Linked DNA regions of Homo sapiens. The protein of the gene in region 1 purifies or fractionates together with the protein of each later gene. This does not show direct contact. Each region holds a gene or a part of one and is shown on either strand. Other genes may lie near its edges.

Region 1 (7,527 bases):
AAAAATCAGTAATTTAAAAGCACCTTATATGACCCATAAAAACTTTTAAAACCTTAAAACAATTTAACTTTTTGCTAAATCTGACATTCAAAGAAGTTAAAAATCACTATAGGGTTCCACCATAAATGACTGTCACTACTTGTTCAATTTCCTAACAGACCTTAGAGGTACCACTCAGTAGAAGTAGTAGTCTTAAAAAGTTGTTTTAAAGAAAGGGAACATTCTGAGTGGCACATTCGTTTATCCAACCAAAACACTATTACAAAATGAAAGACACCATTATTTTCAGCATTGATCTCATTTCTTTTCCTACATAATAACTGGCAATAACAGCAGTTATTTCAAACTTTCAAAGAAATTTATCAAGTCCCTGGTTGTTGTTTTTTAATTTTTCAATTTCTGGGTCAAGACTGCATTTGGAAAACCTTAAAATTCAAAAGCAACATTGCTCTGAAACTATCTGATATTTCTGTATTTTGTACCTGATTTTGTTTCACTGAAAGTCACTTTAAAAACCAAGTTAACCACAGAATATGAAAGTTTTTTTGTTTTTTTGTTTTGAGATGTAGTCTTGCTGTGTCACCAGACTGGAGTGCAGTGCCACGATCTCAGCTCTCTGCAACCTCTGCCTTCCGGGTTCAAGTGATTCTCCTGCCTCAGCCTCCCGAGTAGGTGGGACTATAGGCACCACCACGCCCAGGAAATTTTTACATTTTTAGTAGAGACGGGGTTTCACCATGTTAGCCAGGATGGTCTCGATCTCTTGACCTCGTGATCTGCTCGCCTCAGCCTCCCAAAGTGCTGGGATTACAGGCGTGAGCCACCGTGCCAGGCCAATATGAAAGTTTTTAACTTATTGTCACAGAAGTTCTCATGAACCTAACAATATTTAATTAACAAGTATTCTCAATAACATTCCCTTGTTTTTTTAACCATTAGTTGTAGATATTCACCTTCTCATCCCAGCAATATGACAAATACAAACAGCAATGGGTAGAGGCTGAAAGGCAATTTTCCATTATGCCACTAACTTAATCATCTCTGGTCCTCAATATATTGTAAAAGAGGAGGGTAAGAGCAGTTGTTCTTTGATATTGCTTCCACTGTAAAACTTTATGATCCAGGAATACATTTGCTAATGTTAATGCATCTCCTATTCATTAATACAAGACTGTTCTGTATTAGAAGCTAAAAAAAGAGAAAATATATATCTGAAAAGAACAAGGAAATGAAAGTTAACTAATGTTGAAAAATTCAAATTTCAGTTTGAACACAGAGATCTACACAGTGATCTAATGTGTTTAAATATCCCTCCAACCAAGGAATTCTGTTAATTGCCAACACAAAACATTAGGTGTTTCAAAATTTTGTACTTCATGAGTTAATACCAACACAAAGTATGATATAATTGCAGTATAACTTTAATTTGTTAGAAATTGTAAGACTTTTAAAAGCAATACATACCACTGCATTAATACTAATCAAGCTTTATGCTTCACCAATTAAAATGTCTAAGCTAGATTATAGCCTTATTATAAAAACGAGGTTTTTCTTAGCAAGCCTACCAAAATGCAATATTACTGCCATCAAGTTCCCTAGATACTTACACATGCAACTGAAGGCAAACAGCCAGGTTTCCTTTCTTTGAGAAACTTTAGTTGTCTATTTTTTGAAATGTTTTCCTTCTCATGGGACCAAAAAATGTTTACAACTAAAGCAAACTACTGCAGGGAGGGAATACACAATTAAAACAAATCTACCATCCAGATGCAACAAGCGTGGAATTAGGACTGGACAGGATAGTCGGCGGTGTTGTGATACTTCTGTTGAAATTATTAACAAGACAAGACCATCATTCGCCCCCAATTATGTTTATCCCCTCGTTGAGTTTGATGATCACACAAAATCTGAAGTCTAAATATAAACGTTTTTATATTCAAAGTCAATATTCAAGAAAACTTTTCCACTAATGTTGCTAAACCATAGATGGATCCCAACAAGAGTTGTCTGTAGAAGTCTCGTAACAAGTAACCTTTAGCTCCACCACCTAAGTTTCCAATCACTGAGAAGAGTCTGGGACAACTCATCTTCAGGTTCACGGGAGAAGTGGAGCACACCTGCTTTCCTCTGGCAGAGTAACTTCCCAGGGACACAAAGGCCAGAGAATCAGACCTGGAGAGGCAAAAAGCTTTAGCTGGACACCCACCAAGCCCCTGGCAACCCAAACACTTCGAGCGATTTACCTCTTGCTGTTACTTCCCAGGCACCTAGCCGCATAAGATCTTGCAGGACGGGGGGAGGGGAGGGCTATGCGGTCCTGTCCCAAGTAAGGGGAGGGGTGTAGACAGTTAATGCCAGAGCCAGCGTTTCTGGCCACAACCGAGCAGCCTCAACGAGAGGGGTTGGTGACTGCTCTCGGCCCGCCCCGTTACTCAGTGCATTGCAATGGCGACCGCCAGGCTCCCCAAGCCGCCTGATCTCGGCCCCTTCCCCCTACTGCTCACTGGCTGCTCGGCTTCATGTGACTAAACAAAACCCCCAAGTCTAGTGCCCAGCTCAGCCCCTTTGTGTCCGCTACCGGATCCTCCGACGCCGCAGCGGAAAGCCCCCCCCCCATCCCCCCGCCGAGTCCCGCCCCGCGGCGGCGGCCGCCGCTCACCTCAGGCTCCGTGGCCCCCAGCGACCGCCGCGGCCGCCGCCTCCCCGAACCCGGGGCCCGGGCTCCTTGTGTAGCACCAACTCCGCCTCCTCGGCCGCCGCCGCCATCTTAGCCTGTGCGGCAAAATGCGTCCTTTTGGATGGCTGGGACCCAGCCTAGGGCGTAGCTCCCCGGGCCCGAGAGCCGGAGGCCGGGTCCCCCAAGTTCTTCCGCCACCCTCAGTCCCGCCGCTGCCACAGCCCAGAGGCCCGAAACCCACTCGGGTCCCAGCGAATCTGACCAAATAACCCCTGAAACTCACAGTTTGGTGCCGTGTGCGTCAAACCGGGGCGACGTTGGGAGCACGCGGCGTCCCCGCGTCACACGCCGCTCTGTACGCTACTCGGCTCCAGCGGCCCCCCTCCGCTCCCCGCTTTTCGCCTCCAGCCCCGGTTCCCACGGCGCAGGCGCGCTGCTTTCCCGCCTCTGCCGGGCTGCGGGCCGCGGGGGTGGCCAGCGAGGAGCTCCCGGGAAGCTTCGCGCTGGTGGAGCGTCTGGGCCAATTAGACAAACGAGGGCAGCGGAAACAGTGCACCACTGTTCTCGGGTGCCAGAAACCAAACAAGGTCACCTCCCCCAGCGCTGACCTAATCACTCCCAAGGAGGTTCCCGCCCCAAAGTAGGCACGCTCCAAATATGGTGGTGCCCAAACTCTGCAAGACCCAAGCACTAGGCATGCCTAGGCCCTTTAAGGTGGAACAGGCCCAGGTTTGAGTTCCACGATCACGAGCGTGCAAAAATCTCTGTTATTTTCCTCTTGTTGAGGAAAACAGCAATATTTGCCAATCACAACTGTGGAGTAATGGCAGAGGGAAGGTTTTAGGATCTTAAGGGGGCAGATTGTTGGGAGTTGCTTGATGGCCAGGCAAAGCATCAAGTGTGACATCTCAGTTACCCGGACAGCCTGCCCTGAAAGGTGGCCGAGGTTTGCTCCAGTTTGACTCTCTGAGGATACTCTCTCCCTGCATTACTGAAAGTGTCGTGGTTCTACGAATTAAAGTTATATAAGAAGCATGTGAGATGCTGGTTAACCCTTCAGAGAATCAGTCCCTAGAGGGTTCTGGAAATTTTCATTTTTAACAAGACTTCACCACAGGATCCTGGGGCAGAGAAACACTGAGTGGGCTATTCTTTTGTTTTTCGACTGAGCCAACGAGAAACTGCTAACATGTTTAAGATTAACCAAGAGTTCTTGAGAAATCTACTGGTCCCGCCTTAATTATTTGGCTTCTCTGAACCTCTGTTTACTCATTTAAAAATTTAAAAATAAAAAAGTTTTCCTTAGTTGTACAGCTGTCATTACTGTGGCCCTCCAAACCCTCAAGATGTTATTGACATTCGGAAGAATATACCATAACTGCATTTATTTGACAAGAATGAGAAACATTCTCTTTCCTATGGAATGATGCCTTCAGCAACAGCAAACGTAGATTCCAAACAACAAATATTTGACTAAACACATTAATTGCTTCATTACTTAATAGCTAACACTTTTGAGTGCTTACTGTGTACCAGGCATTGTTCTAACTTGCTCGATTTCATTGTAACCCAATGAGACAAAGAGGAGTAAGGTGATTTTCTCGAAGTCATACAGTTCTTTGGGCTCTTTAAAATGCAAATCTCCTGTCTTCATTTACACAAATGTGTAAACAATAAAATATAAATACGTATATATTTGCAGTCAATGGGGGAGGGGTGCTCTTTGGATCATTTCGTTTGCAGAATCCATTAAAATTGGACATTCTCAGTTTACTATTGGACTTACTACAAAATATTATGTACTATGGAAATTCTTACATTATATCACTGTAAAAGCAGTTACTAAGAAAATAACTGTCATTAATGTATACCACTGACTAATGTGCAGACAAATCACACAAGCAAATAGAATCATTCAGAACTCAGCCATGATCAGGAACTTGTCTCACTAATGAAGCTGTTTTTTACACTAGAACTCAGCAACTGAATTGTAATACTGTGGAAGTCATAATAGCAGTAAAAGTAATCATAGTAATTATAATAGTAGAAGTAGTAATAGTTGATGAAACGCTGTACAAAATGGATCTCAAAAGCTTCTATGAATGGCAGAAAATATAATGACAGAAAGCTTGAATAAGGTAATGCGAAAAGAAAAAAAAATACACGTGAGTTCTCTGTCTAGCCGCAGACGTGGGTCTCTGTTCTGCAGGATGGGGTTTGTAAAAGTTATTAAGAATAAGGCCTACTTTAAGAGATATCAAGTGAAATTTAGAAGACGACGAGAGGGTAAAACTGATTACTATGCTCAGAAACACTTGGTGATACAGGATAAAAATGAATACAACATACCCAAATACAGGATGATAGTTCGTGGAACAAACAGAGTATCATTTGTCAGATTGCTTATGCCCGTACAGAGGGGGATATGATAGTCTGCACAGCATATGTACACGAACTGCCAAAATATGGTGTGAAGGTTGACCTGACAAATTATGCTGCAGCGTATTGTACTGGCCTGCTGCTGGACCGCAGGCTTCTCAATAGGTTTGACATGGACAAGATCTATGAAGGCCAAGTGGAGGCAACTGGCGATGACTACAATGTGGTAAGCATTGATGGTCAGCCAGGTGCCTTTACCTGCAATTAGGATGCAGGCCTTGCCAGAACTACTACTGGCAGTAAAGTTTTTGGCACTCTGAAGGGAGCTGTGCATGGGGGCTTGTCTGTCCCTCACAGTACTAAATGATTCCCTGGTTATGATTCTGAAAGCAAGAAATTTAATGCAGAAGTACACAGGAAGCACATCATGGGCCACAATGTTGCAGATTACATGTGCTACTTAATGGAAGAAGATGAAGATGGTTACAAGAAACAGTTCTCTCAATACATGAAGAACAGTGTAACTCCAGACATGATGGAAGAGATGTGTAAGAAAGCTCATGCTGCTATACGAGAGAGTCCAGTCTGTGAAAAGAAGCCCAAGAAAGAAGTTAAAAAGAAGAAGTGGAACCGACCCAAAATGTCCCTTGCTCAGAAGAAAGATTGGGTAGCTCAAAAGAAGGCAAGCTTCCTCAGAGCTCAGGAGCGGGCTGCTGAGAGCTAAACCAAACAATTTTCTATGAGGATTTTTCAGATAAAGACAATAAACTTATGGACAGAAAAAAACATACAGGCAACTGAAAAAATCCAAAGACAAGTTATGTGGCTCAGTGCCAAAATATTTAAGGAAATCACAGTTGAGAATGAAAGTCAAGATGTGGAAAACAGTTTGGGAGAAAATTCATAACACATTGTGAATAAAATGATGCTCCAATGAATACACCTGGTAAATGTTTTAAAGAAATAAAAAGCAAGATGCTGGTTTTTGTTGCTGTTGTTGTTTTTAAACTTTTATTTTAGGTTCAGGAGTACATATGCAGGTTTGTTATATAGGTAAACTCATGTCACTGGGGTTTTGTACAGATTATCTCATGACTCAGGTACTTAGCCTAGTACCCAGTAGTTATTTTTTTCTGATCCTCTCCCTCCTCCCACCATCCACCCTCAGGTGGGCCCTAGTGTGTGTTGTTCCCTCCCTTGTGTCCCTGTGTTCTCATCATTTTGCTCCCACTTATAAGTGAGAACATGCAGCCTTTGGTTTTCTATTCCTGAATTAGTTTGCTAAGAATAATGGCCTCCAGCTCCATCCAAGTTCCTGCAAAGGACATGATCTCATTCTTTTTATGGCTGCATAGTATTCCAAGGTATATATATACCACATTTTCTTTATCCAGTCTACCACTAATGGGCATTTAGGTTAATTCCAAGTCTTGGCTATTGTGAGGGATACTTCAGTGAGCATACACATGCATGTGTCTTTATGGTAGAATGATTTATATTCCTTTGGGTATATACCTAGCAATAGGATTGCTGGGTTGAATGGTAGTTCTGTTTTCAACTCTTTGAGAAATTGCCACACTGCTTTTCACAACAGTTGAACCAATTTACACTCCCACCAACAGCATATTAGTGTTCTCTTTTCTCTGCAACCTCACCAGCATGTTATTTTTTGACTTTTTAATAATGTGGCTACTGTTAATATGTTAAAATCTGACCATATTAACACAGTGTATGAATCCATTAGTGATTACCAGATTATCAGTGAATGGAATTACCTGATAAAAAACATAAAGTGGCCAGGCACGGTGGCTCATGCCTGTAATCCCAGCACTTTGGGAGGCCAAGGCAGGCAGATCACGAGGTCAGGAGATCGAGACCACCCTGGCTAACACAGTGAAACCCTGTCTCTACTAAAAATACAAGAAATTAGCCGGGCGTGGTGGCGGACGCCTGTAGTCCCAGCTACTCAGGAGGCTGAGGCAGGAGAATGGCGTGAACCCGGGGGGCGGAGATTGCAGTGAGCCGAGATCCCGCCACTGTACTCCAGCCTGGGTGACAGAGCAAGACTGCGTCTCAAAAATAAATAAATAAATAAAGTAAGTTGTGGTCTCAAATGACTTGCTCAAAAAGAAAATGCAGTTCAGTGTTGGATAAAAACAAATAATTCTCCTCATTCCAATGCTTTATAATTCCAAGCAAAAAGAAAGAAATGAAACATTAATCTACTAGTAATAAAGTCAAATCAAGTTTGGATTTTGCTCAGTATCCCACTAGTTCTGGATCAACCTCTTAATACCAAAACTGTAAAGCAAGTCACTCTTGTGGAACTGCAAATAGTTCAGTATGTTTGTTCATTGGAGTGGGGGTAGGGAGGATGTGTGGAGTAGAAAGAGAGATGATGTAAACAGAAACCAAGTTTTGTATTTATTTTTGTTCCACGCTGACCTGAGCACAGAGCTTTACACATAGCA
Region 2 (7,023 bases), on another chromosome or scaffold:
ATCAGAAGTCAGACTGCACCAGACTCAAACCTGGCACTTGAGAAACAGGGGATCCAACACCGGGATCAGGGAAGGGGCGTCACAGGGGGACAAACAGCGTCGTGTGTCTGAACCCAGAGACAAGCGGGCAGCGTTCAGATGGTTCAGAATAAATTAGCAGGTGGCAGAGTCAACTCAACCAACAGAAACACAAGCCAGTGATTAACGACAGACACAACATACCCTGTAGACGACGTGGTTCAGCTTGAAAATGCTCACACGATCTGATCTAAACAAAATGGGAGCCAGTCAACGGGGCTGGGGGAGGGGCGTCCGTGCCTCTGCGAGTGCTTGGCTCCCCCAGAGGGACGTCATGAGTGTGAAGAACCAAAACCAAAACCAAAGAAAGCAAATCAAGAAACAGCCAAATGGCGGCATGCTCTTCTCAAAGGCCGTGGTAAATGCCGGAAGAAACAGCGGGAAGCACTGATCCACCTGCAGGACTCGGGGGCAGAAAAGCTGACTCTGTGCCCGATTCACAGCACTACGGAACTCTTACACTGGAAGAACCGCGAACGTGGTATGATTTTACTTTGGTAAAAATAAAAGAGAGCAGGTGAAGAGCCCTAGGAGGGCGCCGTGCCGCCGCACCTGAACCAGCATGTGGCAGATGTCCACGTGTCCAGCCTCTGCCGCGGCGTGCAGTGGAGAGCGCTTATTCTGGTGCTCCATTTTGAAGTTGGGGTCAATTCCGTCCACTGTGAACAAACACAGTTTTATTAATGATTTCAGATGTAGCCACAGACTCCAGCTCAGGACTGTCACGATGGCTGGCAAGCACTCACAAATGACCATCCTCCACATAAACAGCCACCTCGAGCCACGCCGGAACCCGCCCACAGCACCATCCTCTGGACTTGAGACTTGAGTGTGCTAGTCTCCTGCGGAATTGAACAGGCAGGTCCCTCTGTCAGAACTAACTCGGCAAGGCACGCTCTTCCCTTTACCACCCTGCTCTAACTCTGAGGTTCCTTCTGTGTTTCTGTGTGGCCTGGCCATGGCCGCCCCAGGCCCAGTGAGGCGGCTGACCAGGGCAGACACACCCTAGGGGAGCAAGCAAGGCCGGGGACAGAGGCCTGAGCATCGGTCAATTCCCAGGAGGTCTGAGAGGACGGTGAGCAACGGAGCAGTGAGGTGACCTTCACAGGTGTCCTGTGAAGTCCATGACAAAATGATTAAAACTGCTGGTCAACATAAATAAACCTTTCTTTAAAAGCAAATAGTTTCACTTCTTTTTACTTGACGTACTGTCCAGTAAAGGGCTTCTTAATCATCCTTTTCAACCCAGAGACGATGAACGTCAGAGAAATCAAGCCTAAAGCTATGAGCTCAGAGACCAAATTATCACTGGGAAGGCTCTCTAACAAGTATGCTTTTGCGTATTAGAAATCTAATGCAATCGGTTTGCCTGTTATAAAATACCTATAGCTGAAGCCTACTTTGTCCACACCACAGCTGCTGCGATCAGCACAGGTGAAACATCGACTGCCGTCATCACCACACATTCCAGCGTCATGACCACACATCTCAGCATCATCACCGCATATCCCAGCGTCATCACCACACATCTCAGCATCATCACCACACATCCCAGCGTCATCACCACACATCCCAGCGTCATCACCACACGTCTCAGCGTCATCACCACACGTCTCAGCGTCATCACCACACATCTCAGTGATGCCGTCATCACCACACATCTCAGCGTCATCACCACACGTCCCAGCGTCGTCACCACACGTCCCAGCGTCGTCACCACACGTCCCAGCGTCGTCACCACACGTCTCAGCGTCGTCACCACACGTCCCAGCGTCATCACCACACGTCTCAGCGTCATCACCACACGTCTCAGTGATGCCGTCATCACCACACATCTCAGCGTCATCACCACACATCCCAGCGTCATCACCACACATCCCGGCGTCATCACCACACGTCTCGGCGTCATCACCACACGTCTCGGCGTCATCACCACACATCCCGGCGTCATCACCACACATCCCAGCGTCATCACCACACGTCTCAGCGTCATCACCACACATCTCAGTGATGCCGTCATCACCACACATCTCAGCGTCATCACCACACATCCCAGCGTCATCACCACACATCCCGGCGTCATCACCACACGTCTCGGCGTCATCACCACACGTCTCGGCGTCATCACCACACATCTCAGTGAGATGCCGTCATCACCACACATCTCAGCGTCATCACCACACATCCCAGCGTCATCACCACACATCCCAGTGTCATCACCACACATACCGGCGTCATCACCACACGTCTCGGCGTCATCACCACACGTCTCGGCGTCATCACCACACATCTCAGTGAGATGCCGTCATCACCACACATCTCAGCGTCATCACCACACATCCCAGCGTCATCACCACACATCCCAGCGTCATCACCACACATCTCAGTGATGCCATCACCACACATCTCAGCGTCATCACCACACATCCCAGCGTCATCACCACACGTCTCAGCGTCATCACCACACGTCTCAGCGTCATCACCACACATCTCAGTGATGCCGTCATCACCACACATCTCAGCGTCATCACCACACATCCCAGCGTCATCACCACACATCCCAGCGTCATCACACGTCTCAGCGTCATCACCACACGTCTCAGCGTCATCACCACACATCTCAGTGATGCCGTCATCACCACACATCTCAGCGTCATCACCACACATCCCAGCATCATCACCACACATCCCAGCGTCATCACCACACATCCCAGCGTCATCACATCTCAGCGTCATCACCACACATCTCAGCGTCATCACCACACATCTCAGTGATGCCGTCATCACCACACATCTCAGCGTCATCACCACACATCTCAGCGTCATCACCACACATCCCAGCGTCATCACATCTCAGCATCATCACCATACATCTCAGCGTCATCACCACACATCTCAGCGTCATCACCACACATCTCAGGGCCACAACTCACTAGTTTTGCTTTTCCTTAATCTCTATTTCTGCTTGATTTAATAATCACATACCAATTCCTTTTTAAAAATTAGAACTTCGTAGAGAATAGTTCTAATATCTTGCGTAACTGGATATGAACACCATAAAAAGCCTCAACACCAGTGGGCAACCTATTCTCACTCATCAGAGAACTCGGAGACACAGAAACAGAAAACCAAAACGAGACCAGCCTCCTGAGGAAGGAGTAACAACTGCTCTCGGCTTCTTTCAGTGCCACAGGGCCGGCTGCATGTGCCCGGGCCGCAGGAAGGCACTTACCCAGCATGAGGAGCACCTTCTGAAGCTCCCCTTGCCTGGCGGAGAAGTACAGCTGCTTTGGGTGGAAGCGAAGCTTCTTGGGTCTGTGGGAAGCACAAGACAACAGTCAGCATGGGGCTCTGCATCCCACACATGAAGCTGAAGGCTGGAAGGCCCGGCGGACATCTCCCCACCAGCCCCTCAAGCTCATGGGGCTCCGCGTCCCACACATGAAGCTGAAGGCTGGAAGGCCCGGCAGACGTCTGCCCACCAGCCCCACAAGCTCAAGTGCAAACCCACCAGTCGAGATATCTCATGGTAAAAACTGCGGACAAGAAACTGCGTTCCCAGTCACCGCAGGAGAACACTACGCACTGTGAGGCTTTTACACAACACGACGACAGAACCAGCGCAGGATGCAGGGGAACCTCATCTACGCTCAGCACAGCCGGGACCAGCCCCAGCCAGGATGAGCCCACACAGCGTGGTCACGAGTGAGGGCACAGCTCGCACTACAGAAGATGTCCTGGGCGGTGAGAGCTGGGAACACTGGCACTTTTGCTCTGAAACCTTAACTCGATGACTAAGCTGATAACTGATATGGTGTGGACCTCTGTCCCTCCCAAAACTCACGTTGAAATGTGACCTCCAGTGTTGGAGGTGAGACCTGGTAGAAGGTGACTGGATCCTGGAGGCAGATCCCTCATGAATGGCTTAGTGTCATCCCTCCCCCTGGTGATGAGTGAGTTCCCGCTCAGTCAGTTCCCACAAGATCTGGTCGCTTAAGAGTCTGGGAGCCTCCCCCTTCTCTGTCTCTTGCTACTGCTCCTGCTTTGCCTTCCACCATGACTGTAGCTTCCTGAGGCCTCCCAAGGAGCAGATGCCAGCACCATGCTTCCTGTACAGTCTGGAGAACCGTGAGCCAATTAAGCCTCTTTTCTATATAAATCATCCAGCCCTGGGCATTTCTTTATATTGACACAAAAGCAGACTAACACAATCACCAAGGGATGGGGGAGAGAGTGGGGTCAGGAACAGTCTGGGGTCTGGTCAGCGAGCAGAGCCTGTGGGTCAGGAACAGTCTGGGGTCTGGTCAGCGAGCAGGGCCTGTTGGCGTCAGCAGATGGTACCGTCGCTTCAAGAGCAGGCTCAGAGGCGAGGCTGGAGGCAGACAGAGGGGAGATCCAGGGAGGAGGCACCGCAAGCCTCACTGCCACAGTCTGGTCTGCCTCCCTGGTGGGGCAATGCTGAGAGGAGGACGAGGAGGGGTGGGTTTTTGTGAGCTGTCGGGAAAGCCTGGAGGGCCCCTTGGCCCAACCCTCGCATTGCACAGATGGGGTGTGGCCTGGGAGGGAAACGGAGTCAAGGCAGCAGAAGCAGTGTCTGCTCTCATGACCTAAGGGCAGCTCAGGGCCAACAGCAACCAGGAAATGTTTGTCAAAGCTCACCAAGACCTGCCTCCTCACTTAGGACTTCAAAGGTGTCAGAGGTTGCTCTTACTATAATGCAGAGGACAGTAATTTACAATAATTTCCCAAAATAGTGTGAAAATATACGAATTATTCTAACGAACAGCATTAATCAAAAAGCTGAGAAGTGCTAAAGTGACACCATGGGGAAAAACGCGGGGTGCAGATTAAAACAGGCTCTGAGACATCTCTGAAATCACATGTCAGGTCTTACTTTTCCGAGTCGAGGGCGATGAGAGCGCTCTCCAAGGTTTCCTTCCCTGGTCCCTGGGAAAGGCCGGGAGTTGGCCTCCCAAGCCCAGCAGGTCCCGTTGGATCAAAGCCCTCGGGCACGTGGGAGGCTGCACCCTGCAGCTTGTCGTCCTCCGAGAGTGGTGGCCCGGCAGCACTTCAGGGGAGGAAATCGGGGAAAGGTTTATGAAAACACGAAACATGGCCTGTTCCGACTCTGACTGCCCGAGAGCGCTGTTTTCTAAGTGAGAGCTGCGGATTTGCTTACTGTCCGCTTAGTCCCTGGATTTAACGGTTCAGGATTCAGAACCAAATTTCCTGAGAAAACTAGGGCAACTTTTCCTAGACTTCTGGGCAGCGTGTTCAAATACACTCTCATGAATGAGCTTCAAGCTGAATCTATCAAGTCCACTGCCCACCCCAACAAAAGGAAATCCCACTGGAATTTTGATTCAAAGTGCATTAAATTTACAGGTTAATAGGAAGGAATCACCTTAACATGTCCACAATTTGAGTCTCTTTTAAATAATCTTCAAGGAAGTTTATTTTCTTTATATTAGTGTCACATTTAAGTTCTTTGTTCTGCTGGGTAGTAACAAGTTTTGTTGCTGTTTTGAAAGGGTCTCTTTTGTTATTTTATTCTCAGGCAGGGAACTGCTGCTAAGGAAGAAGGCAAGTGGCTTCTATCTCTTCTTATCAGATCCTCTTACTGACTCTTTTGAGCTCTAAAAATTTTTCAGCTGTTTCTACTGGACTCTTTCAGGAAGACAATTGTATCTGTCTAATATGAACACTTCTAATTATTTTAGACTTTTTTGTCTTCAGCTAAGGCCTTCAAACCTTAATACCACAGAACTCGGTCACAGACTGCAGCAGCCACCACTCGTCTATCGCTTGTGTACCAACAGGACTGTGCCATCAACAGAAACACCACAGAGCTACATCAATGGGGGTGCTGTGAAAACCGGTTCAAAACAGGCAAATGGATCTACATAACCAAACCGAAAGAGAGCAACGTATGCACAAATGGCAATAAATGAATTTCAGAGTCTTAAATGTCAGAAATCACCATAAGCATCAGCATCAGCTCAGAGACTTCTGGAAAAAACAGCAGGAAGCAATAACGTTGAGTTAACAACTGAAACTTTTTCAGGTGGACGACTGGAGAGCCCAGCCAGAGCCTGTGCCAGGTACCTGCCCGTTGTGGTGTCGGCCCTGCCCTCCAGGGCCGAGCCCTTCTCCTGCCCGGGGACTGGTGTCACGGTCGAGGTGGTGTCTGCTTTAGCTATCGTCACCTCTTTGGCCTTGGAGCTCTCCTCCCCACAGTGGGGACAATAGCTGGCGTTATTGACTCGAGAGGCACAGTCTTTGTGGAAACGGTGAGAGATGCTGCTCTCGGGCTGACACTCCATAAAATTACCCTAAAAATGGGAGGACAAAAAAAAATTTTTGTTTTAATTGGGGTTAATATTTAGAAAAATAAAGTACTACTAAACTGGCACCGCATCCCACATCGGGCGGTCTGCAGAGTGAGCCATGGGTCGGGGTGGGGTCCAGTCTTGGCCCCAGGCATCGTTAAGAAGGAGGAACGATGCTTCCCGTGGTGCTCTCGCCCCACAGAGAAGAAGCTGAAGCCAGACAGAGGTCACTTGGCTGCCTCCAACCCACCTAGGCCCAGGAAAGCTGAGGCTGCCCGCAAAGAGAAGGCCTAAAGAAGGACCCAGAAGGCCCCTACTCTGAAGGGCGGATAGGGACAGGGACAGACGACAGCACCTCAGGGCACAGCATCAGGCAGGTGGAGCTGCCTCAGTGCCCAGCAGTGCGCAGCAGATGTGGTTTGGCGACCCAGGTGAGCCTCGAGGAGGGGCACACAGCCGTAAGAACAGCATTTTCTTGCAGAAAGCCAGAGATAAACAGATGTAGCAGAACCAAAAAAAGGATGTTTGAAGATGGGGAGGACATGCAAGGTGTGAAGTCCAAAGAAAGTCTCCCAAAAGTGGAAGCTCTTGGCCCATGTTCGTAAAGGGGCAGCAG

Evidence for each region. Proteins that work in one complex are often made in the same cells at the same time.
Region 2: the proteins of ZNF644 (region 1) and EHMT1 purify together in Homo sapiens (affinity purification with mass spectrometry; 2 studies listed by BioGRID and IntAct, with this or other methods). This does not show direct contact.

Annotation. Positions count from the first base shown.
Region 1 is NC_000001.11:91,019,030-91,026,556, forward strand, and holds the start of ZNF644 (zinc finger protein 644), read right to left. Parts: upstream 3,007-7,527; 5' UTR 2,961-3,006; exon of another isoform or gene 2,660-2,960; intron 2,455-2,659; exon of another isoform or gene 954-2,454; intron 1-953.
Region 2 is NC_000009.12:137,776,005-137,783,027, reverse strand, and holds part of EHMT1 (histone-lysine N-methyltransferase EHMT1), read right to left. Parts: intron 6,411-7,023; coding exon 6,184-6,410; intron 5,147-6,183; coding exon 4,973-5,146; intron 3,394-4,972; coding exon 3,311-3,393; intron 738-3,310; coding exon 631-737; intron 1-630. UniProt on the Homo sapiens protein: Histone methyltransferase that specifically mono- and dimethylates 'Lys-9' of histone H3 (H3K9me1 and H3K9me2, respectively) in euchromatin.